Linked DNA regions of Homo sapiens: all the other regions are linked to region 1. The links come from fine-mapping of genetic effects on gene expression. A gene starts in region 1. Each other region holds a variant in brackets. All regions are shown on one strand. Distances are from middle to middle. Region 1 holds the start of VDR (vitamin D receptor). Region 2 overlaps VDR (vitamin D receptor). Region 3 overlaps VDR (vitamin D receptor).

The links. PIP is the estimated chance that this variant, and not a neighbour inherited with it, causes the effect.
Region 2: its variant is fine-mapped to the expression of VDR in whole blood (TOPMed, PIP 0.96).
Region 3: its variant is fine-mapped to the expression of VDR in nasal epithelium (TOPMed, PIP above 0.99).

Annotation. Positions count from the first base shown.
Region 1 is chr12:47,901,231-47,909,408 of GRCh38, forward strand. It overlaps VDR (vitamin D receptor), which reads right to left and starts at 3,764. Exons shown (of 10, transcript NM_000376.3): 1 at 3,725-3,764. RefSeq lists an enhancer at 2,174-2,373 and a silencer at 3,757-3,886.
Region 2 is chr12:47,840,400-47,848,577 of GRCh38, forward strand. It overlaps VDR (vitamin D receptor), which reads right to left. Exons shown (of 10, transcript NM_000376.3): 8 at 6,258-6,409; 9 at 5,936-6,052; 10 at 1,138-4,606. The coding sequence ends at 4,347. Among named protein-coding and RNA genes, the nearest start is that of LINC02354, 15 kb to the left of the region's middle. RefSeq lists enhancers at 2,810-3,383, 3,384-3,956, 5,481-5,982. The variant G/T (reference allele first, on the strand shown) is at 4,039.
Region 3 is chr12:47,859,008-47,867,185 of GRCh38, forward strand. It overlaps VDR (vitamin D receptor), which reads right to left. Exons shown (of 10, transcript NM_000376.3): 4 at 6,040-6,170. Among named protein-coding and RNA genes, the nearest start is that of LINC02354, 34 kb to the left of the region's middle. The variant T/C (reference allele first, on the strand shown) is at 4,976.

The DNA of each region.
Region 1 (8,178 bases):
GCGGCTCTGCTCCCTCCACGCCTATGCCCGATCACCCACAGGCTGGACCTCTGGGGATCCCACCCTTTGCATCTGGACCATGAGGACCCAGGACCCAGAAGGCAGGACAGTTTCTCTTCCACATGTCGCCACAGCGGGATGCAGGCACTGCCATCAACGCCTGTCACTTGGATTGAGCAAGAACAGCCTCTCCCCACCCTGGACCATTTCCCCAATAGTCAGACCAGACCAAAGAGGCAAACTCTAGTGTCTTTGGGAACTGACTCTGTCTCCTGCAATGCAGCTTCTCCCTGGCTTTGGCCTCCACTTTGCTTTTCATTTCCCCGGAACCTGATTATAGGTGACCTATGTCCTTTATCAGAGTGGGCGAGGTTTGCCTACCCTTGCCTTCCTGGCTGCTTACCTGCTTTACAGCCAGACTTTCTGTGGGATAGTGTGGTCCCCAGAGGTCTGGGAAGCTGGATGAGCAAAATGTGGAGGCTGTAGATATGGAGGAAGAGGGAAGAGGAAACGTGAGGCCCAGTCTTGGCTCCACTATGAACCCCAATTTCCCCAGGGGAAGCTGAAGAGGAGTTGGCAGACCTTCCTGTCCCTGTCTGAGGTTGGGGTGGGGCAGGAAAACCAAAGGTGAGGCCAGTCACAAGTCAAGGGTGAAGGGAAGTCACACGAGTGGTGGGCTGGGTCCCAGGACAGGGTGGCCGGGAGCAGTGCCGCCCCAGGGAAAAGACGAGAATTGGCTGATAACACCAGGGAGCAGGCTAGGGTGTCGGGGGCTGTCCTCAGAATTAAGCTACCCCTGTTTTCCCTTGAGCATTAAGCCTCCCCCAACCTTATCATCCCCTCATCACTGCTGTGACCTCTGCTGAGTTTGGAGTGATGATCACTAGGGTGATTAATATTCCATTTTTCCCTGGAAAGTTTGGGTTTATGTCCATTGTCCTGGTATAACCATGCATGGCATCCCCTTTCACTCTCAGAAGTATCCCAGTTTGCAAGATACATTACACAGGCACTCTTTCTAGCATATCTAGGAGGGCACTGACACAGGAAAAGGTTAGGGACAAATCAGAGGGAAGCAAAATGACAAGCAAGGCCTTGGTGGCCCAGAGTGGCAGCCAGGCTGGCTTCAGCCCAGCTGGATCCTCTCAGAACTGGACAATAGTGGAGGGAGAGCCTGAGAACTGCTGCCCACCCTGGGGCTCAAACTGTCTTGGAGTCAGGGGCCTGGTCTGGTGGGTTCTGCTTCCTGCTATCCCTCAGAGGGCCTGGAGTCATGCTGGGCACACAAGAGGCTCTTAATCAAATCTGGTCAATTCCTTATTTCCCTCTACCTGCATCCAAAACAGAATTGCAGCAGGGACAAATGGAAGCTGGAGCCCTGTAATTCTTTATTCAGCAACACACCAAATGTCATCTAGGTGGTCCTCCCGTCTCTGGCTCTCTGGCCCCTAGGACCTGACTGCTGCACAGGCAACAGCGAGTTTCTAGCAGAGGTTCCAGATGCCTATTCCAGCCAGGACAGCGGTGCCTCCTTAGGATGTGGGGTAAGGAATGAAACAATGGGAACTCCCTTTCGTGTCTTAGATAACCACCTGATGTAGTAGCCACCTGATGTAGCCCACTCGGTCCCAGGCCTTTCTCCATTCACAGCCTGGGCTTTGGACACCTGCTATCTGTTCTGGGGGTAGAGTGTAGGGGTTCAGGAGGTCCTCTCGGAGCTTCCTCTGGGGCTTAGTTACAAAAGAGATCAGTTTTGAGGTCAAATAGGGGAAGAATACTGAGAAACCATAAACACAAACTATCAGGGCACCCCAAACAGCACCCGACCTTCCATAATGTTTATACAAACAAAGTCTGATGGCCTCTGCCGAAGAGGAGTAAAGGGTTGGGAAGGCTTTCTAACTCTCATTTTTTCCCCTCCTTTCTTACCCCATTTTCTAGTCCCTCCTTTAGCTTGGTAAGGGTCCAAGTCACAGCTGATCAAGACCAGCCAAACCCAAAGCCATGGGACCCAGCCAGAGCATAGACTGTGAATTCCCCAGCTTTTTGCAGTTTGAGTCAGCCCCACAGCTGGATTGGCCTCCCAGGACTCTTCTCAAATAGGTCCAGAGAGGCTGCTGAGTGGGGGCCACGGACTCTGCAGGGAGGGCTACTTCTGTTCAACGATCTCTAGCACCCAAAACAAAAGCCAGGGAGAAATGTGCAGTCTTACTACCTTCTGGTCTGGCTGCATGCCAGCCCTGAGACTGTTTCAGAAAGACTCACAGTTCCCTCCAGCACTTGGACAGGGAAGGGACGGCAGGTCTCTCAACACACAACACTCTTAGTCCATAGAATTGAGGCTCCAATGTTCAGATAACCCATTTCTACCTCAGCAAATCACCCTCACTCCCTAGCCTGAGTTAAAGCCTTCTTTGCCAACACCATGACTTCTCTGGCCCCAGACTTTCCTAATTTCTTTTGCTCACCCCCTTCACTAGCAGAGATGGGCTGCTAATGAGACCACTAGGCAGAAATGGAAGGAAGGGCTGGAAAAGCCTGCAGTGCTGGGATGCACCTCCTTATCCCAGGAGAAAGATGAGATGTAGATTTATCATAAAGCCACTATCCCTTCACGGTCACCTCCTGCTAGAATCATCTCATAGCCATTCCATAAGCACTGCTGTGTTGGGTATCTGAGCCCCTGCCCATGAGGAAGACCACCTTCCAGCAGGGAGCTGGAGCAGAGCTGAACTCTGCCCAGGAGAGCTTCTGCAATGCTCAGAAAATGCCTGCCCAACTGCTTGCCTGGGCTCTGGCCCCTTTGGCTGCAACTGAGCCCAGACAGGAGGCTGACTCACTCACCGCACGCATAGAGGAGGAGGAGGAACAAGAGGAGGAGGAGGAGGAGGAGGAGAAGGAGGAGGAACTGTGAGAAGGGTCTGGGCTTGGAGACCTAAGGCTCCCCCAGCCCAGGCTAGGTCTCAGACTCTGGTCCCTGGGTGAAGAGAAGGAGGGGCAGTTGTACACTGGCCCTGGAGACCACAGGCTGTTCCCTCCTAGATACTTCTGAATCTTCCTCACCACCACCCACAGATCCAGGGCACCTCACTTTTCAAACAGAAACTACTCCTTGAGCCCCTTCCTCATTTAAATGCTTGCCCCTGAGTTCCTCTGAACATCTATTGACAGGCTGTCCTGAAAAAAAATAGGGCCAATTAGGTCTAAACTCATTGGTAGTTCAAAGAAAAGTAAAAAAAAAAAAAAAAAAAAAAAAATTACTTAAAAGACCCAACTCCACCATCACAGGTGACCATACCTGGGCCCTGTAAGACAATAAATAAGGTTACACACCCTCCACTCCAGCAGTTCTGAGCACCATCGACAGCCAATCGCTCCTTTTCTTATTCCTCCACTCCATGCCAAGGCGCCCCGACAGAAGAAGGAAACAAATACTTCTTGTTGCCCAAGTGCTAAGCACTGTGTTAGCGGAGCATTTCTCCTAAGCGCCGAGGATGTCGCTGCTCCCCTCGCCAGCCTGGCACGAACTTCAGCTTTCTCAAACCTCAGTGCCCCTTAGTGTCCCAGCCTCATGGCACGACAGCCCGGACCTCAGTAGCCAAGTTTACCGCTGAGACTTAGACTCTAATGCTCGCAGCCGGGCGCTCAGGCCCCGGTATCCCAGACGCCCCGACCCCGAGTCCCTATCCTGAGACCCCCTTTCCCGCTGCTCCCGGGTTCGCACCTGGTCCGGCCGGCGGGTGGACAAGCTGTTCCGCGCTCCCGGCGCACACGGCTCCGCTGCCGCCTTTTGACAAGCAGAGACAGCCCAGCACCTGGCCCCGCCTCTCGGTCAGGCCCCGCCCCGGCCCCGCCCCGCCCCTCCGCCCCGCCCACAGGTCCAGTCCTCTCTTGCCAGGAGCTCCGTTGGCGCTGCAACCATCTTGACTTGGAATCAACCACCCTATAGGCCACGCTGTAGCCTTAGATACTCTAACTCGTGAAATTTTCATCGACCGTCGTCCATAGGGCAAGGCACGCTTCTGCCCTCTGTGGGACAGAGTTGTCGATGATTATAGGTGCGGATACCCGCTTCAGCCTGTGTTAATCGGGGATGCAGCCCCCCACCCTTCCTGCCGTGGTTCTACCCAGCCTGCTGCGGACGCCTGAGCCAGGTGCGTCACCCCCACCTGGGCTGACCAGGCCAGGACTTCGTCGTCCGCGGGACGCTGGGGGGCGCCTGCCGACTGGCACCGGCGGCTAGCTCCGCACGAATGGGAAATCCCGGGCTCCGCTCGCCAACCTGTTACTGCTGCAGAACGCCAGGAAGCTCAGCCTGATCCCACAGATTAGGGTAAAATATCCCGGGGGGCCGAAGTGGAAACCGGAGTTGCGTCATTGCTCCCACCCGATATCACCTTGGCAGCGACCGCGGCTGACCACGTTCCCGGCCTGTCGCGAATCTCACCCAAGGGAGCTGAGTCTCAGCTTCCCTGGTCCCTGGTCCCGAGTTCCGCCTTCCCCCCCCGCCCCGTGGCATCGGCGTGAGGGGAAAAGATAAAGACTACCTCCTGAGACCTGGAATTGTGGATGGCTGCGGAAAACTCACCACAGGAAATTTTGGCTTAAAGTTATTCTCTGCTTCCCTTGACTGTGTGATAGGCACCGCTCTATCTGCTAGAGGACAGGTGAAAAAGATGGGGTTCCCTCTTCTTAGAACTCACTGTGCAGTGGGAGAATGTATAAATAAATAGTAATTACAACATAATCTTCTGGAATAGAAATGCTCACAAAATCATCCAGCAGTCGATGACCTCCTTTAGCCAGGGAAGATATTGCTATTCGCCTCTTACAGAGGAGGAAACCATGGCTCAGAGGGACAAGGTGAAAGGGTGGGAAATTGAGGCATAGAAAGTTTAAGTGATATGCCCAACATGACTCAGCTAATCAATGAAGGACTAGTGCTAGAGCCCAGCAAATCTGCTGGTGCAATGGTCTCTGAACCATTTCTGAGACAGCTATGCTGGACTACATCATAACCAGCCCCTCACAACTCAATAATAGGGTTAAAAGAAATAGACTGAGATTAAATAGAAGGAAGAACCTTCCAACAGTGAAGTTTGTTAAGCACTGCAACAGTTCATTATGGAGGTATCATGGCAACTTTCTGGGAAGACTTAAACAAAAGACAGAAGAGAGGCATAGCGTTTGATTGAACTTGGGAATGGACCATTTATTCTGAGAAACAGATGAAGTGCCCCTTTAGAGGTCCTGCCAGTCTGATGGATGGATTCTCTACCTGTAATGAAAGTAATAGGAAGGATCCCCTTGCCCAAAGCATCGTGGGAAAGCTAGCGGTGATTCTTGTGGGAAGAAAAGCATAAGAGGAAATTTCCAACCACCAATACCTTGGGACATTCTCTGCAAGTCCCATGAGCCTCTGAAAGAGGTTGAACACTCAGAAGTCACTTTTGTGGTGCTTGACTGGCCTGACATCTTGCAAATAAACCTTATCAAAAGATGGTGGAAGATGCGTACTAAGTATTCCGTAGTAACTGAGAGTTAGTCTTTTTTCACAGCCTTTGTTGGAGGAGAGGTACTTGTAATTCACATGTGTAAACTGCTTTATAATTTAAAAATTCTTTGGAATATCTTACTTGATCTTTATCATAGCCTTTTCAGACATGAAGAGTAAAAAATACCGTTCCATTGTACAACTGATGTGCAGAGTTGTCAAGGTTTCTACAGCTGAGGAGTGTCAGAGCTACTGGACCCAGATCTTCTCTCTGCACATCCCACTGTTTCATGCTGCCTCTAAAAAACAAAAAAAAAATTTCCATGCATGCACTTTTCACAGAGTTGAAGAACTCAGAGGTTCTGCGTTTGGCAGATGGGCAAGATTATAGATGTCATCACGGTCCCCAGCACATGCCGTCATCAGCCCCGTCACCTTGTCTGTAACCATGTTCTTCCCATATTCCCCCAATACCTGAACTGTTCTCTCTCATCCACCTCTCCAGACCCTCTCCTCTTTCAGGTCCTGCCTATTCCATCAGGCTTTTCCAACATCTCCAGGAAAGGAACTGTCAATTCTCTGGTCTTTGTAGCGCATGCATTTTCTATATTGCATGGTTTGGCACCTGCTAATGAACCATCTTGTATTTACATTGAACAAAGATAGATTTTTTTTTGCCTGTTTTATTCTTAGAAGGAAGGTTATTTTGTGAAAGTAGAAAAGCAACATCATATGAGATTCACTTCTCCTGTGTTCTGTTGTAATCCCTAATTGTCTCTGGACCCTACTTCTCCCTAGCCAGGTACACAACTGGAAAGGGAGGTTGCTGTCCCACACCGTGTTCTCTTGATGCCTCGATGACAAGCACCATTCCTGCACTACAGAGTTAATAGTTTTAAATTCCCCTATCTTGACTTCTCCATAAACCAGGTACCAGAACCTCTGCAGAAGACATTAATTTTTCTTTTCCCTGAAGTTAACATTTCTCATATTCTCACTTATCCCTGGGATGGGTAGTGGTCTTTATTGGGATGTACAGATTGTTTTTTGTCAGTACTCATCTCTGCCAAATTACATCAGGGAATATCTCGTAAGCACTTGCTTGGTTAATATTAGCCAAGTCTGGTGGTGTGCTAGATACTCTGCTATAGTGCTATAGACTCAAAAATCTATATAGAAACAAAAGAGCCCTTCCCGGTGCATCTGACTTTGATGGAAAGATTCCAGAGGTACTAGGCTGAGGATTTCGTTTCATTCATTTCATTCCTGTGCATTTCATTCCACAGAGTCCAAAGAAAGGCAGGGCCTGGTCTCTTGACCTCTCTGCCAGGCTCCAGGCACCTGGGGATGGCCTGGGCAGTTGTGGCTACAGTCAGGCCACAGGACTGCAGCCTGTCCTCATCTCTGGGCTTCCTTTTTCTGCAGCCTGGCCACTGTCCTCGAGGCTGGCTGATGCTCTCTGCACTTCTTGCTGTGGTGTCAGAGCTAGAGTGGGTCACTTTGTCCCTGTGAGTCTCCCAGAGACCCTGTCCCCATGGACAGAGGTTTTTTGAGCTGTCTAAAGGCTGCTCTGCAGGTAAAAATGTGCCCTTTGAGCTCTCTCTGGAACACTCCCATCTGACTGTTTGTTTTTCCCTTTTTTAGGGCCATTTTCCCCCCTTAAATATTTTATGGTTATGAGCACGGTAGGACTGAAGAGAAGCCTCTCTTCAGTAAACACCCAGAGAACATTCTGAGAGACATGAGCGTGGAGTTAGAAAGACAGAAGGGACCAGGCCATCTTTTCAGTTTGTTCCCTTGTTTTAGAGATTTTTTAAAAAACACACGTTAAGTTCAGAAAGATTAATTCATTTATATTTCCTAACCCAAGTTAAGACAAAAAGGATCAGGGATGACTCTCCTTATTTATGTTCCAGATGGTAAAAATAGAATGAATAAATGTAAGAAGCTGTAGCAATGAAAGCAAACCAAGGGGTCTTCCCAGGACAGTATTTTTCAAAATTTTAACTGCAACCCATAATAAGAAATAAGTTTTTACTGTGACCTAGTTTACTCAGGAATATATATAAGTTCCTGATACAAAAGATGTTCTACAATGTTTTCTATTATTTTCTCTATCCTCTTTTCCTTCCTTCCTCCCTCCCTCCTTCCCTCTTTCATTCCTTTTTCTTCCTTTCTCTCTTTCTTTCTTCCTTCCTTCCTGCCTTCCTTCCTTTCTTTCTTTCCTTGCTTTTCCCTTCCTTCCTTCCTTCCTTTCCTTTCTTTTCCTTCCTTCTTTCCTTCCTTCCTTTCCTTTTGGGATCCACCAAATTTATTTCACAGCCCATTAATGGGTTGTGACCCAAAATACAGTATTAAAAATCCTACCCTACACAGTGGCTCAGGCCTGTAATCCCAGTACTTTAGGAAGTTGAGGTGGAAGGATTACTTTGAGGCCAGGAGTTTGAGACCAGCCTGGACAACATAGTGAGACCCTATCTCTACAAAAAATTTAAAAATTATCCAGGCATTGTGGTGTGCGCTTGTAGTCCAAGCTGCTTGAGAGGCTGAAGTGGGAGGATCGCTTGAGCCTAGGAGGTCAAGGCTGCAGTGAGCTATGATCATGCCACTATGCTTGAGGCCTGGGAGGCAGAGTGAGACCCTGTCTCAAAAAAAAAAAAAAAAAAAAATCCTGCCCTAGATCA
Region 2 (8,178 bases), 61 kb before region 1:
TTACGGTAGCCCTGAGGTTATCAAATACTGGAACTGTGGCTTGTGCGGTTGACAAGCTAGATGTTTACCTTTATTTCATTTAAATACTCACATGTAGCTAGTGGCTACTGGATTGAACAGTGTAGGCATAGAACCAAAGCTTGGAATATGAAAACTTGAAAACACTTGATCCTAATTATGCAACCTTCCTGGGGTATATTCCTCTTGGTTTACCTGGAAAAGCGCATTATAACACAGCCTTGGAAATTTTGTGTTCTTCTAGGTCAGCTATAAAAATGCTACATAAGATCCTTCTAACAGTGTATCAGAACTCCATTCTCCACATTTCTCCAGCCAGAGACATGCCCATTTATGCAGCTGTTGATTTCCTTTCTCTAAGTCCCTTCATGTTTCACAAAATAACCCTCAAGTTCTAACCCCAATTCCCCTAAGTCCATCTCATCCCACTGAAACACATTTTAGCCTTTGGTTTGAAATATTTTCAGATGTTTCTGAAAAATTAGAGTGAATCACATCCCCAGGCCAACTTATCCTCAATCAATACATTAGCTGGCATGATTTCCTTATTTTCAGATCACAATGCTGTGTTCTTGTTTACTGTGCCTAGCAATGCTACCCTTCATCATAAACCCCACTTCCTTGGGAAGCAGAATGGAGTGCATCGGCATAAGTTGGGCCCCTTAGGAGTCCTGTTTCTGCACAGCAGTCATTTGTAATCCTCCAGGTCACTGGCACAGCCGCCATCTCTAATGGCAGACACAGTTTTGCCAGTAGCTGTTTGGTTTTCATTTTTGAGGGTCTCACGTAGGTGTCATATATTGACTGCACACTTCCTGGGAGTAGAGCACAGTTTGGTCCAGCACCTCTAATTTTCCTGGCTCAGGGCCTGCTTTAGGAATGGGAACCTCTTTTATCTCCTCTCTAGGAGAGAGCTAGCAAGACCATCAGTCGTCTGTCAGGTCCCCCAACTCAATAGGAAGCAGGACAATGTAGCAGTTAATTTGTGGCTTCTGAACCTAGCTGCTGAAGGTTCAAATCCCATCCCTTGCTAGTGTGGCATTGCTCAAGCTATCCTTTCTGTCAAATGGGGGTAATAATGATTCATCTCCCATAAGGTCCTTATAAGGATAAGGCAAATTGGTTTGCATAAAGCATTTATTTACAGCAGTACTTGCAACAAAGTAAGTGCTATATAAGTATGAGCCATTTTTATTACCATAAGCAAAGCTTTCTACATTGGTTGACTTGACAAACTTCTGGCAAACTTTTTTTCTCTTTGGAAATCATTCAGCAGGCACTGTTTACATCCTTTCGCTGCCATATCTCTAGCTTTCACTAAATCTGCCACACATTCCTGCCTTCTCTGTTGACCTCGCTTGGATTCTCCTACATGCTTCCAGTTAGCCAGCCAGAGGATTTTCCTGTCTCTGGGAATCTTGTGGAAAATCTTGCATTTTGGGGCACCTTCTCCTTCAGTTATAATGATATACCTTAAAAGTTTTACATTTACAAATGTCTATTTCACACTCTCATTCTAAAGTAGAATCGATGATGACCTTTTCTCCCCGTTCAGCCCCATAAAAACTCATTTTCCCCTCTTTTCTTTTCCTCCCAGCTCCTAGACTTCCTTTGGAGGAGTGGCCTAGGTGGTGGGGCCCAGGGCTGAGTAACTGATATTTCCAGGAGTTCCCCGAAGAAGGCAGGGCCAGAGGGAGAGCTGGGAAGGTGGTGACATTACAAAGACAAATGCATGTTATAGATGAGGCAACAGCATTATCCAAGGCTGAGGTGGAGAGCCCAGCAGGCCAGGGCCACATCGTGGTGGGGTAGGGTCTGATTCACATTGAGGCAGAGGTGAGTCTCCTTCCTTCTCCTTCTGATGGGTTGGTGGAGTTACAAGCCAGGGAAGGAAGGAAAGGGTCCCAGATCCAGACTTGCTCTTTCTGAAATCCAGGGCTTCCCCCAGGGACTGGGTCAGCCACCTGGGGAATGAGAGTGGGGGTCTGAGCTCAAACATGGTGTAGTGAAAAGGACACCGGACCATGACTCCAAAATCTGGTCCTGTCCTGGTCCACTTCTAAGACGGAGTTTCGCTCTTGTTGTCCAGGTTGGAGAGTAACGGCACGATCTCAGCTCACTGCAACCTCCACCTCCTGGGTTCAATTCTTCTGCCTCAGCCTCCTGAGTAGCTGGGATTACAGGCTTGCGCCACCATGCCCGGCTATTTTTTTTTTTTTTTTTTTTGTATTTTTAATAGAGACAGGGTTTCTCCATGTTGGTCAGGTTGGTCTCGAACTCCCGACCTCAGGTGATCCACCTACCTCGACCTCCCAAACTGCTGGGATTACAGGCGTGAGCCACCGCGCCGGGCCTGTCCTGGCCCACTTCTAGCTAGTTATATATGCTTGGGTGAGTCACGCCCTCCTCTGTCAGTTTTCCTGAATGAGGGGATTGACTCGTTTAGCAACTTACAAGTGTTTTCTCCCACTGAAGAGCAAGCTGGACCAATACGTTCTGCAGCTAAAATCAAACAAGGGTCTCTCCCTAGACCCTTGTAAAATAACAACAGCAATAATAATTAATGTACAGAAGTTTCACAATGTAAGTTCTCCCCCCATAAATATCTCCAAATCAGTGGTACCTGCTACCCTGTATATTAGACTATAATACAAATGGAGTCTGAGTCTGAAAACAACTCATATCTAATAAATTTAAGATTAAGCGATATATATGCTATTCTGCAGTAAGGAACGTGGCTTTCAGATGTTTTTCCACCTGAAGAATTCTGAGAGACATGGGGCCAGGTGGACACCAAGGCTCTTGCAGTGTGAAGTCTGATTCCTCTCTGGGTTTTCAGGGAACTACGGATGCAGGTGCAAGGACACAGCTTCCAGGAGTTGGGGCAGTCACGTTCCCACTGACTTTAACATTCCTGGTGACTCAGGGAATGCGGCCGCATTCCCCAAACTCAAGCACTGATCTGAAGAAGCCTCTGTGATCCACCTCGAAGAACGCCTTTCTGTACCGGTCCCGCACACCTACAGCTCACTCTCACAAAGACCCCACCTTGGAGTAAACGGACAGACGCTTCCCACCAGCTGGGCTGGGCTGGCTGCAGAGAGCATGCACTTGAAGTTGTATCACTCCGCCCCTGCCTCACAGGCACCTTTTGACTTTTGGGTGGTGGAGTGAGAATAAGAAGGCACCTTACCCTACATCACGGAACCCCCAAACACTCTCTCTGACTAGCCACCCGAGACTGCCCCGCTCTCCCTTCCCACACTCTGGGGTGCGGCAGCGCTAGCTCTTAGCCCTGTGGGTGAACAGCGGCCTTGCAACCACATTGAGGCGGCAGGGAGATCATGACTCAGCCGCTGGGGTCTGAAAATTCTTCTCCTCCATCCCACCCTGCCAGATGGAGAAGATGCGGCTCACTGCTTCTCCAGACCCTCTCCCCTGGGGAGGGGGTGGGGGAGCAGGCTCTCGGCTACTCTCGGTGATCCGAGGAGGACAGGGAGGGCTGGCTCTCCTGGGCAGGAGGTAAGGCACTGGCAGGGGGAGGACGAGGTCGGCAGGTGCTTTTCTGCAAACTGGGGACAATTCAGTCCTGCTACATGGATCCGTGGAAGGAGGGCTTCCACCTCAACCAACCCCTTAGACCCAGGGCGAGGAACTGTGAGCTTGGTGACAGGGACAGCTGTCATATTCTTCTGTGAGGCTGTTTTTGTCTGTTTTTCCTCCTTGGGTCTCTCAGCAGGTGGGTTCGTGCCTGGTGCTCCAGTGATGGGAAGAAAACCCACCTCACCACAGCTACTGCCCGTGAGAATATAACCAGGGCAATGGGATGTTGGTGGGCACTGAAGGGGGTGGGGTGGGAGCTGTGGGCCGATTATTTATCGTGAGTAGGCAGGAGAGGGAGACCCCACTAGGCGCTGGACAAGCGGGGCCTGCAGTGGGGGGAGGTGCAGGTGTCTCTGTCCCTGAGGAATGGATGCATTTCTCCTGTCTGTTCCCTCAACATCAGTCAGCAGCCACTTA[G/T]GCAGCGGTGGAGGCATCTCTGGGCAAGGCCCTGCCTCCAGCCTCTGCCCTCTGCCCCCACTTGGGTTTCTTTGTCAAACAAACAGCAACTCCTCATGGCTGAGGTCTCAAGGGACCGGGGAAAAGCCCGCAGGAAAGGGGTTAGGTTGGACAGGAGAGAGAATGGGCTGGGTGGATAGGGGAGGTGGCAGAGGAGGGGCTGAACCCCAGACGGGGTGAGGAGGGCTGCTGAGTAGCCGCCAGCCCCGGGCCTGGCACGTGGCCCTGGAGGAGCAGCCCCACCCAGGCACCGCCACAGGCTGTCCTAGTCAGGAGATCTCATTGCCAAACACTTCGAGCACAAGGGGCGTTAGCTTCATGCTGCACTCAGGCTGGAAGGAGAGGCAGCGGTACTGCTTGGAGTGCTCCTCATTGAGGCTGCGCAGGTCGGCTAGCTTCTGGATCATCTTGGCATAGAGCAGGTGGCTGCCCGGGGGCGGGTGGCGGCAGCGGATGTACGTCTGCAGTGTGTTGGACAGGCGGTCCTGGATGGCCTCAATCAGCGCGGCGTCCTGCACCCCAGGACGATCTGTGGGCACGGGGATAGAGAAGAAGGCACAGGAGCTCTCAGCTGGGCCCCTCACTGCTCAATCCCACCACCCCCCACCCACACAGACACTCAACGGCAGCACCCCCTAGGCCACCCCTCTATGACTGCTGACCGGTGATACCACTGCCTGGCCCCAAAGCCCTCCAGTGACTTCTCCGTGCATTTAGGATCCAGACCTAGGTCCTTCCATGGGCGCACCTGGCCCTGTCCCTGCCTGGCCTTGCTCCCTGTCCATGCTCTGTCCATCCCTCAGCGTCCCGATGCGCCATGCTCTCTGGCCACCAGCCTTCACATCTGTGCTCCCTCTGCTTGGAACTCTGCTCTGCTATCTTTGCCAGACTCTTACTGATCCTTTGGATAACAGCTTAAAAGGTCTTCCTCCAAAAGGCCATTCCTGGCAACACTCTACCTCTGTAGCCCAGACCACGTCAGCTTCCCTCCTTCTATTCTACCCTTCTGTAGCATCACTTACTTTATTTTTAAAACTCTTGCCTTGTTAGGAATTAATAATTAAATAACATTTGTTTAATGTTTCCTCCTAAGCTTCATGGGAGAGGAGCCTGTGTCCCATTTGCTGCTGAACCCCAGTACCTAGCATAGTGCCTGGTACCTAATAGGTGCTCAATAAATTGTTGCTAAGTGGATGAATGAATGAGAGAAGGCTGGCTGGGCAGGGGTAGAGGAGCCCATCTCCATTCCTTGAGCCTCCAGTCCAGGAAAGCATCCCTGGGCACAGGCCACTAGCACAGGCTGAGGCAGGGCCGCCCCTCTTTGGACCTCATCACCGACATCATGTCCCCAAGGTCACAATAACTTCCTCTTCGGCCTTTTCTCCCTCTTCTCACCTCTAACCAGCGGAAGAGGTCAAGGGTCACTGCACATTGCCTCCAAAATCAATCAGGTAAACTATATAGGCAGAACCATCTCTCAGGCTCCAAAGTTTTGTACCCTGCCCGCAAGAAACCTCAAATAACAGGAATGTTGAGCCCAGTTCACGCAAGAGCAGAGCCTGAGTATTGGGAATGCGCAGGCCTGTCTGTGGCCCCAGGAACCCTGCTTATCTAGTTCCTCAGAATCCCCCCTACGAATCGCCTGCACACTCTGCAAGGCAGAGCTAAGGGCAGTGAGGGGCACCTCAGCGTCCACACACCACAGGGGCTCTGCAAACCAGCAAAGTAGGTATTTCCTTATCTGTGTCTCCTTTTGCTACGTCTCCCTTCAGGTTGCCCAGCTGGCCCTCAGCAGGTCTTTGTCCTTCATACTCCCCGCTCCCCAGGTCCCTGAGCTCCTCCCTGCCTGGCCCCATACCTGGGGAGACGATGCAGATGGCCATGAGCAGGACATGCTCCTCCTCATGCAAGTTCAGCTTCTTCAGTCCCACCTGGAACTTGATGAGGGGCTCAATCAGCTCCAGGCTGTGTCCGGCTGTGAGAGACAATGGCCAGGTACTGCGGGCAGAGCTGAGGAGCCGCCCACCCACCTCCAACCCCATGGGTCTGACCCTCGCCCTTCTCTCCCTGTTGGTGCCTAACTCCCTCCCATGTATCTGATTGGAGCCAAACCCCAGGACGGGTGGAGCCAGAATCTGGGAGCTGAAAAAGACTCCCCAGGAGGTGGAGTCTAGGCATACCTTTGGTCACGTCACTGACGCGGTACTTGTAGTCTTGGTTGCCACAGGTCCAGGACATGTCGTCCATGGTGAAGGACTCATTGGAGCGCAACATGATGACCTCAATGGCACTTGACTTCAGCAGTACGATCTGGTCCTCAGAGGTGAGGTCTCTGCAGGGGAGGGAGGGAAGGAGGTCAGGTTACCAGTAAACGCCTTCAAGCCACACAAATCAGTTTAGTGCTTTGACAGGTATACACCTGCTGGGCACCAACATGCACCCTGGGTCTTTCATCGAGGAGCTTGCAGGCTGGCTGGAAGGGACAAGAGTGTTCCTTGAGAGAGAACAGTTCAACACTGTGATCATGTGCCAAGGCCAGAAGTGAAGTAGCTCAGTTACTAAGACAAGAAAAACTCAGAGACCAAGCAGCCAGAGCTATGGGGCACAGGAAACGGAGCCCAGGGAAGTTCCCAGCATTGAGGCATGAATATGGTGGTCTGCAAAAGGTAGGGCCATGGTATCTTCAACAACACCCAAGTTTTCTCCTCCTCTCCCTCCTACTGTCCTCCAGTCCTTCTCAGTAGTAAATTCAGCCAACTCTGTCTCTAGGATGTCTCTCAAGCCCGTGATCTTATTCCCACTCCTACCAGGAGTGCCCTGGTTCAGAGCTCCAGCGTCTTTTCCAATAGCCTCTTACAGGAATCCCAGACTTGTGTCTCTCCAGTCTCTCATTCATCTTTCTTACCACTGCTGCAGGTCAATGTCCTCTTGCACTCAGAAATCTTCACTGACTCTCAAACACCCTAGGATCAGGCCCACACTCCCTAACTTGGCTCCAACCTCTCATTCCAACTCCCTTTCCCATGGTAAACTCCACCAACCTTCCATTCTAGCAGCATCATGCCACTCCACATTCAGATGCTGTGTGTTCTCACTGTGCCTTTTTTTTTTCTTGTGACAGGATCTCACTCTGTTGCTGAGGCTGGAGTGCAGTGTTATGATCATAGCATGCTACAGCCTCAAACTCCTGGGCTCAAGTGAGTCTCCCACCTCAGCCTTCCGAATAGCTAAGACTACAAGCATGCGCCACCATGCTCAGCTAATTTCTTTTATTAGTATTTTTAGAGACAGTGTCCTGTTCTGTCACACAAGCTGGAGTGCAACAGAATGATTATGGCTTACTGCAGCCTCAAACTCCTGGGCTCAAGCAGTCCTCCTGCCTCAGCCTCCTAAGTAGCTGGGACTACAGGTGCACACCATCACGCCTAGCTAATTTTTTTTGAGACGGAGTCTCACTTTGTCGCCCAGGCTGGAGTGCAGTGGCGCGATCTCGGCTCACTGCAAGCTTCGCCTCCCAGGTTCACGCCATTCTCCTGCCTCAGCCTCCCGAGTAGCTGGGACTACAGGTGCCCGCCACCATGGCCAGCTAATTTTTTTTTGTATTTTTAGTAGAGACGAGGTTTCACAGTGTTAGCCAGGATGGTCTCGATCTCCTGACCTTGTGATCTGCCTGCCTAGGCTTCCCAAAGTGCTGGGATTACAGGTGTACGCCTAGCTAATTTTTAAATTTTTTTTGTAGGGATGGTGTCTCACTATGTGGCCCAGGCTGGTCTCAAATTCCTGGCCTCAAGTGATCCTCTCATCTTGGCCTCTCAAAGAACCAGGGTTACAGGTGTGAGCCACTGCACCCAGCCATCACCACGCCTTTCAGCATACTACAGCTCCAGCCAGGAATACCCTTCTAATTCTCCATTTTGTTTTTCTGGTCCTGAATCCACTGTGTTTTCCACTGGAGCCCCGCACCTTCTGACTCTTTAGCACAGTTAGGGCCATGTCATTGTGATGCCTTGAACATTGCTGGTGCTCTTATTTTGCCCGTCTCCTCCAGTTCTGCTCTTTACATGCTTGTTTTCTACTCCTTTTTTTTTTTTTTTTTTTTTT
Region 3 (8,178 bases), 42 kb before region 1:
GACTGACTCACCTGCCCAAACAGCTGCCAACTCTCCTCCCACAGTGGGTGTCTGCACAGACCCTACCAGGTCAGGCAGGGTGGGAGAGGAAGGGGCAGGGAGCATCCAGGGAAGGCAATGGGGGTAAGCCCTCGCTTGGGGAGCCCAAGATTAGGTGTCTTGTCTTTCCTGCTCACCTGGGGACCAGAGTTAGGGAGACCTGTTTCTGCCAGCCACACCATGGTGTCTACAGGCACGTAGCTCAGCCTGACTGGACTTTGCTAACTTTCCAGTGATTCTGTGATGCCATTCTCCTGCCCAGATACTTTTCTCGGCCCCTACTGATGACCACGTCCAAACTAAAGTTGGCCTCTTCCTAACTTTCAGACTTCATGTCTTAGTGCTTCTGGACACAGCCTCTGTTCTGGGCATGCTGGCATTGCTGCTGGCCTGGGAACATGACCTGCTCATGCTCGCCCCTGCATTTCCAGTTGTGCTAGGTGCCCGTCCAGCTGGGTTTTCTCTCCCCCAAACCTGTATGAGTTCTACCAGTTCTTCAGTGCCTACATCATAGCCATCTTTTTCCATGAAGCATTTCTTGATTGCCCTGATCTGCATCAAGCCTTGTTTTTTTCTGCTGAGCCTCATTTCCTATGCCTGCTACATATTTAGTCTTTCCCACACACATTGACACCCAATTATCTTCTGCTCTGTAAGACTCATGGTTAGCACAGTTTTCAATTCATTACCTATAGACGGAGCCCAAGAAGTTCAAGGTCTCTTTCTCTAGATTACAAGTTACTTAAGGGCAGGGTCCATGTCTTACAATTCTTTCTTTTCTCTCCCTTCCTTTCCCTTCCTTCCTTCCTTCCTTCCTTCTTTCCTTCCTTCCTTCCTTCCTTCCTTCCTTCCTTCCTTCCTTCCTTCCTTCTTTCTTTTTCTTTCTTTCTTTCTTTCTTTCTTTCTTTCTTTCTTTCTTTCTTTCTTTCTTTCTTTCACAGACTCTCGCTCTATTATCCAGGCTGGAGTGCAGTGGCACCACCTCGGCTCACTGCAACCTCCACCTCCCGGGTTCTAAGCGATTCTCCTGCCTCAGGCTACAGAGTACCTGGGCTTATAGGCACATGCCACCATGCCTGGCCAATTTTTTTGTATTTTTAGTAGAGATGGGGTTTCACCATGTTGGCCAGGCTGGTCTCAAACTCCTGACCTCAGGTGATCTGCCCGCCTTGGCCTCCCAAAGTGCTGGGATTACAGGCGTGAGCTACCATGCCCGGCCTTTGTCTTACAATTCTTATATTTCCCCCATAAAGGCTAGACCGGAGGGGCTACCTGGCCGTGGTGTCTGCTCAATAGTCTGACACCAAATATCAAATGCATCCACACAGATTACACCAACTGTGTGCAAATCATTTTCCTGGTTCAGGAAAGGCTAGTGAGTACTCTAGTGCTGCTTGTCTCCTGCAATGTAGTGAATGGCACCTGGCACACCAGAGAGCTGAGAAAGCTGACCTCTTTTATTGAAACAATTGTTATGGAAAGATTTTCAAGACAGAAAACCTTGTAACGGAACACTTTTAACGTCATATAACCTTTCCCTGATGATTCAGAGGTATCATTCTGAATAATTACTGAACATTGCAGGACAAGGTTACAGCCTCAGAGTTGTCAGAGGCTGTCTGCCCCGCATTGCATGGCTTGGCGTGCTGGGCTTTGGAGTTCTTGGGCTGCTTTTCTTGCTTCCAGTGTCCACCTCCCTGTTAAACTATGCGTTGTCTTCTTATTGGTGTCTGCCTCTGGATGTGTGCCTTTCTCCCCCTTAAGACTTACTTCTGATCTCTTGGGAGCTAGAAGTTCTGGTGATCAAGTTTGATGTAATAAAAAGAAAATATTCGTAATGCTGGATGGCACATAAAGAGTTTTTCTATCTATAAGGCACTATTCTGAGAGCCTTTTGTATATTAACTCATATATTTAGCCCTCATGACAACCCTTTAAGGCAGGTGCTGTTGTTATTCCCATTTAGCAGATGAGGGAGCTGAGGCCCAGAGAGGCTTTCTACCTTTCTCAAAGTCACACAGCTAACAGTGGTGAAACCAGCATTTAGACCTGGGCAGTCTGGTTCTGGAGTGGAAGGTCATAACCACTAGCCTCTACTGTGTCTGATTACATCTGGTTATAAGCGGACTTTGGCTTTCAGCCATGGAGTTTTGACAGGCATTGTGTTCCAATCCATCTGAAGAGTGTGAAAATAAAATTAAGTCACAAAGCTTGTAAATTACCCACTTTAAAGAGACAAAGAAAGTTCAAGTTTAACCCTATAACATGATTCCTCCCAGTCACTTGCATCAAATAGCAACCTCCATCTTCTATGGAGGTAACAGAGGAAGAAATGCTGAGATCTACCAGTTTCACACAGGCCCAATCCATGAGCCTTCTGCAAGGCAACATTGCTTGAGGACTGAATAAGTCTAAAGTCTTTCACATATGCAAATGCACTGTGATTTACGAAATAATTTGTTTAAAGATCTTGTTAATTTCATGGGAAATTTCTTATCATTTTTTCAATGGATTGAACCTAAGATGTCATTACTATCATATAGGAAGACACTATATGATATATGAAGCCATTGACCTAGAATAAGAGTAAACAGGTTCTGAAAGAGTGTTGGGCTGTCTGGTGATCAGGCGTCTAAAGTGCATGAGTTTTGGCATGTGGACTTTGTAAAACCTACATGGCTGCTCAGAAGCTTTTTTTGACTTCATTTTAAGCTCCTTGCTGAGTGTGAAATAATTTTGCGCAAGTTATTCCCATGCAAGACATGTTCTCTCCTTAACGAAGCCAAGATCTGCAACATAAACAATTTGAAAACATTTCAAGATGCCAAGGATGGGCTAAGAACAACCACAGGAAGAGGACATAAAATGTTTCCAAATGAACGGCACAGACATGATCAGGTTTGGGAGAATCTTACTGATCTATAGACCTGTGGAAGATATACAGAGAGAAAGAAGCATAATGAGGAGCTAATATTCATTGATTCCACACATTTATTGAGCACCTACTATGTGCCAGGTACTTTACTAACACCAGGGAGAAAAGACATACATCTGTAAAAACATCAAACAAGTTACCACAATGTGTGGTTCTGTGCAGGACAGGTAATAGTATAAGCAAAAAGCAAGAACTCAGTTATAAAATTTCTTGGGTTCCCAGGGTATAAAGTCAACTAAGAATGGAAAAGAGAGAAAATGAGTCTTTGGTGGGACCAAGCTCTCTTCAATCCATCTCTTAGAGCATGTGAAAGTGCCTGGAAATGCACAATGGAGTGAGCTCCGACCCACTGGGGCCACGAGAGGCTGCCTCGGGTGTGGCCCACAAGCCTGCCCTTTGGAAGCAGAAAGACCTAGATTAGAATGAATGCTGATACCATCATCTTATTAGCTGAGAGCCATGATATTTTAATTCCTCTGAGCTTCCTCAGCTATTGAAAAAATAAAAGTATTTACGTATTTAGGGAGTGTTGTGAGAATTTCAGAAGAAAATGCATGTGCTTGATGTGCTATCTGACACACAGTAGTTGGTCAATACACAGGGTTTCTGTCCTCATCCTTTCCCTTCCTGTGCCTCTTCTATGGAAGGCCCACCTCCTTGCTCGGACAGCAGGAGCCTGGGCTTTTAGCTTTCTTCCTGTGGTTTTACAAATATTGAGACACTCAATTGTCTCTGGGATGCTATGCCTTGGGGACAAAACCCAGCCCAGATAAGAAATGTGCAGCTCTCCCAGGGTTCTGAGGCCGGGGGACTTCACACTGGTGAGGCCTCCTGAAGCTGGACTAACCTGAGGCTGGGAATGTCTCTTCCTGGACAGTCTTCCCTTCAGGAAAGTAAAAAGCATCAGGACGTTTCTATTTTAACTGGATCCCCGCTCCACCAGCCCATCTAGAACTGAGTACTGCTCCCTGCACTGGGATGAGGAGGGTGGTGTGGCGAGAAGCTACCTTGGGCATACAGCAGGATGGGGACACAGGACTCCACAGGAGAGAATTAGGCTGGGGTGGGCGTGGCTGAGGGATGGGGTGGACATCGCTTCTGGGCTGCTGGGTTCCCACCACGTGGTAGGGTGCTCCTGGGCAGGGCCCCCTGATTTACCCCAGGCTGGTGCTGCTCTTCACCATGGATGCAGCGCTGTTTATGGGGACCAGGAGGCAGGTAGGAGGGGACATGAAGTCTGATTCTAGTCCCAGCTTGGCCACCAACTTGCTTTCTGACCCCAGACCTGAGGTCTTTACCTCTCTGAGTCTCAGATGTTCTTTCTATTTTAAGTCAGTAAGACATCCTCTTCCTCCTGAGGTAGGAGAGGGGCCTCTTGGGCATCAGTGAGCTTAGTCCTGAGGGGAACTCCTGTGGCAGTGCCTTACGAACCACTGCAGTGGAACCTCGTGCCAGTCTTGGTTAGCTGGAGCTTTAGAAACCGGACTCCCTGCTTTGCAGAGGCTGTCTTCTCTGCGGAGATGGGACTGTGCTGAGCACACCTTGTTGGTGCCCACCCTAACGCCTCACCCTGAGCAGGGCCCACTGAGAATGTGTGTGAAGCCTCTTAAGGCACCCGGGCCTCCAGCCTCCACTTCTTATTCTCTCCAGGATAAACACAGGAGCCAGGGCGTGGCAGGGACTAGGGTAGGAGCGACCAGCGTGCCCAGGCCTGCACCCTGTGATGGTGTGGAGAAACCACAGCCCTGGAAACACCTTTCAGGGCTGCCAGTGTTGGCTGGGGAGCCGTCAGATCAGGAGGGAGGAGTCATGACCCACAGAAGAGAAGCCTAGGTCAAGGCCCAAAGAGGAAGCCCAGGGTCAGGGCCTCAGCTCTGCCTCTGTGTCCCAACAACAGATAATTTTTTTCCCATTAACGGAGAAATTTGCTATCCTCTAAGCCCTGTTCTGTGACTTATCCTCTGTCCCTGACACATCTTCCTGTTACCTGACCTCTCCCCA[T/C]CCCCAACCACTCCAAACGGTCCCATAGCCAGGAGGGTCCGCATCTGAGCAACATCCCCACCCCGACTCCGACTCCGATTCCTCAGACCCACAGCTAGGAGGGCCTGGGTTCTGTCCTAGGGCCGGGTGGGGGTCTGGATGCAGATGGCAGACAGGAGTGAGCAAGAGAAGGAGAAAAAGGAATGAGTGTACAGAGAGCACCCATGCCCAGCTGGCCTTGCTCCAGCCCAGAGAGGGCCAGGCTGGCCCCTCCCAGCATCTACTGAATTCAATGCCTACTCTAGTTACCAAATAACTGTCCTAGAGCTCTGATGCAAAGTTCAAGTGTTGTTTTCAGTGATGGGTCAAAATATCCATGTAAATATGCCATGTTGGTCTTCTCCAACCCCAGAGAGGGACAGGAAGTCCTATAGAATCACTCCTCTTTCTCCATCTGGATTCAGAGGGTCGTCCTAGAACCCAGTGCTTCCCCTGGCAGACTCTTTCCTCCTGGTCTCTCCCTGGCACAAGCCCTCAGATCTGCTCAAGGCGCCAGAGAGGCTGGGAGGCTGGGGTGGGACAGAACGTGGATGCCAACTATGCTCTGAATACTAATTCTCCCCATCACTCCTGCCCTTCCTAACCCACATCAGCCCTCTCTTCCCAAGCCCATAGAACCTGGGGGTCCTTGAACCTCATTCTTCCCTCTAGGTCCGAGTAACAGGGAGCTGTGAAAAAAGAATGACATCCTGGAGGAAGACCCTGACCCAGGAGTAGAAGGGACTCTTGAAGGCAGTGTCCGGCCTCTCCTTCCTCTCAGGCCCCACTCTGGAGGGACCCTTCCAGGGCCTCTGACACCAACACACAGATCCTCAAGAGGTGCACAGGGCCGCTGAGTGCATCTGACCCTGGACTTCCAGCTGCCCTGTCACCAGCTGCTGGTCCCACTGAGGCCCTGGCCCCAGATGCTGGCAGCTACAGAGGAAGGGCAGGCAGACCCTCTGCCCAAACTTGCAGGAGAGTGGCCAAGGCCTTTCCCTGACTCCACTTCAGGCCCAAACCCTGCCCAGCCCCTGGACACTCACACTCCTTCATCATGCCGATGTCCACACAGCGTTTGAGCCGGCAGGCCTGGCAGTGGCGTCGGTTGTCCTTGGTGATGCGGCAGTCCCCGTTGAAGGGGCAGGTGAATAGTGCCTTCCGCTTCATGCTTCGCCTGCCGAGAGAGCACACACCCTGCCCTGGGTCACTGAACTTCCGGCTCCTCACCCTGTCATCACGGAGACCTGTCTTCTGGGCCCCCTGGTCTCCATTTCTCCAACAGAAGACATGAGGCCCACCCCAGCTGCCAGTCACTCTCACCTCTAGGCTGGGCACCAAACGATTCCTACTTCTCCTTTCATTGCCTGCCCAGCTCCAATCATGGCTTGTACTTACCTTTTTTCTTTTAATTTTTGTTTCTTTTGGGGGGACAGGGTGTTGCTTTGTAGCCCAGGCTGGAATGCAGTGGCATGATCTCAGCTCACTGCAGGCTGGACCTCCTGGGTTCAAGTAATCCTCCTGCTTCAGCCTCCAGTATAGCTGGGATTACAGGTGCATACCACCATGCCTGGCTAATTTTTTGATTTTTTTGTAAAAATGGGGTCTCACTATGTTGCCCAGGCTAGTCTGGAACTCCTGGGCTGAAGCAATCCTCTATCCTAGGCCTCCCACAGTGCTGGGATTACAGGTGTGAGCCACTGCACTCCGACTCTTTTTTTTTTTTTTTTTTGAGACGGAGTTTTGCTCTGTCACCCAGGCTGGAGTGCAGTGGCTCACTCAGCTCACTGCAAGCTCCACCTCCCGGGTTCACACCATTCTCCTGCCTCAGCCTCCAGAGTAGCTGGGACTACAGGCGCCCGCCACCACTCCTGGCTAATTTTTTTTTGTATTTTTAGTAGAAATGGGGTTTCACCGTGTTAGCCAGGATGGTCTCGATCTCCTGACCTCATGATCCGCCTGCCTTGGCCTCCCAAAGTGCTGGGATTACAGGCGTGAGCCATCGCGCACAGCCACGCCCCGACTCTTATACTTATTTTACAGTACTCTGTTCCCCTTCCCATTTTAAAAAATTAAACAGGAAATAACAAAAGTGCATTTCCCTAGAAAAAACCCTTTTTTTTTTGAGATGGAGTCTCGCTCTGTCGCCCAGGCTGGAGTGCAGTGTTGCGATCTCAGCTCACTGCAAGCTCCACCTCCTGGGTTCATGCCGTTCTCCTGCCTCAGCCTCCCGAGTAGCTGGGACTACAGGCGCCCACCACCGCACCCGGCTAATTCTTTGTATTTTCAGTAGAGACGGGGTTTCACTGTGGTCTCGATCTCCTGACCTCATGATCCGCCTGCCTCGGCCTCCCAAAGTGCTGGGATTACAGGCGTAAGCCACTGTGCCTGGCCGAAGAAACCTTTTTAAATATTGAAATCTCCAGAGTAGCCAGCATAATAACATTTAATGAGCCGCTATGAGAAGTAAGGATGCTAGTCTCAGCATGAAGTCTTCTAGATTCTAGAGACCTGTGACTGGAATAGCTCCTGTTCCAGGGATAGATGTGTACATGGAAGGAAGAAAAGGCCCAAACCATAGCTCTAGACATCCCAGAACCTGCCCAGAAAAAGAAGGGGCCAGACAAGCAGGTGGAAATCCTGAGGCCTGGCCTTGGGTTTTTTGAAAGGAAGAGGAAGCAGGAGCTCTGTAGGAACAGAAAACTAGAGCTGGGCACAGTGGCTCAGGCCTGTAATCCTAGCACTTTGAGAGGCTGAGGTGGGCGGATCATCTGAGGTAAGGAGTTTGAGACCAGCCTGGCCAACATGCCAAAACTCCGTCTCTACTAAAAATACAAAAATTAGTTGGCCATGATGGTGCATGCCTGTAGTCCCAGCTACTTGGGGGCTGGGAGCTGAGGCAGGAGAGTCGTTTGAACCCAGGAGGTAGAGGTTGCAGTAGGCCAAGATCATGCCACTGCACTCCAGCCTGGGCAACAGAGCAAGACCCTGTCTCAAAAAACAAAACAAAACAAAACAAAAAAAACCCAGAAAACTACTGAAGTGTTCTTAGCTAGAAAGGTGGCACCCTTGAGGCTGGGTGTGGTGGCTCAGGCCTGTAATCCCAGCACTTTGAGAGGCCGAGGTGGGTGGATCATGAGGTCAGGAGTTTGAGACCAGCCTGACCAACATAGTGAAACCCCATC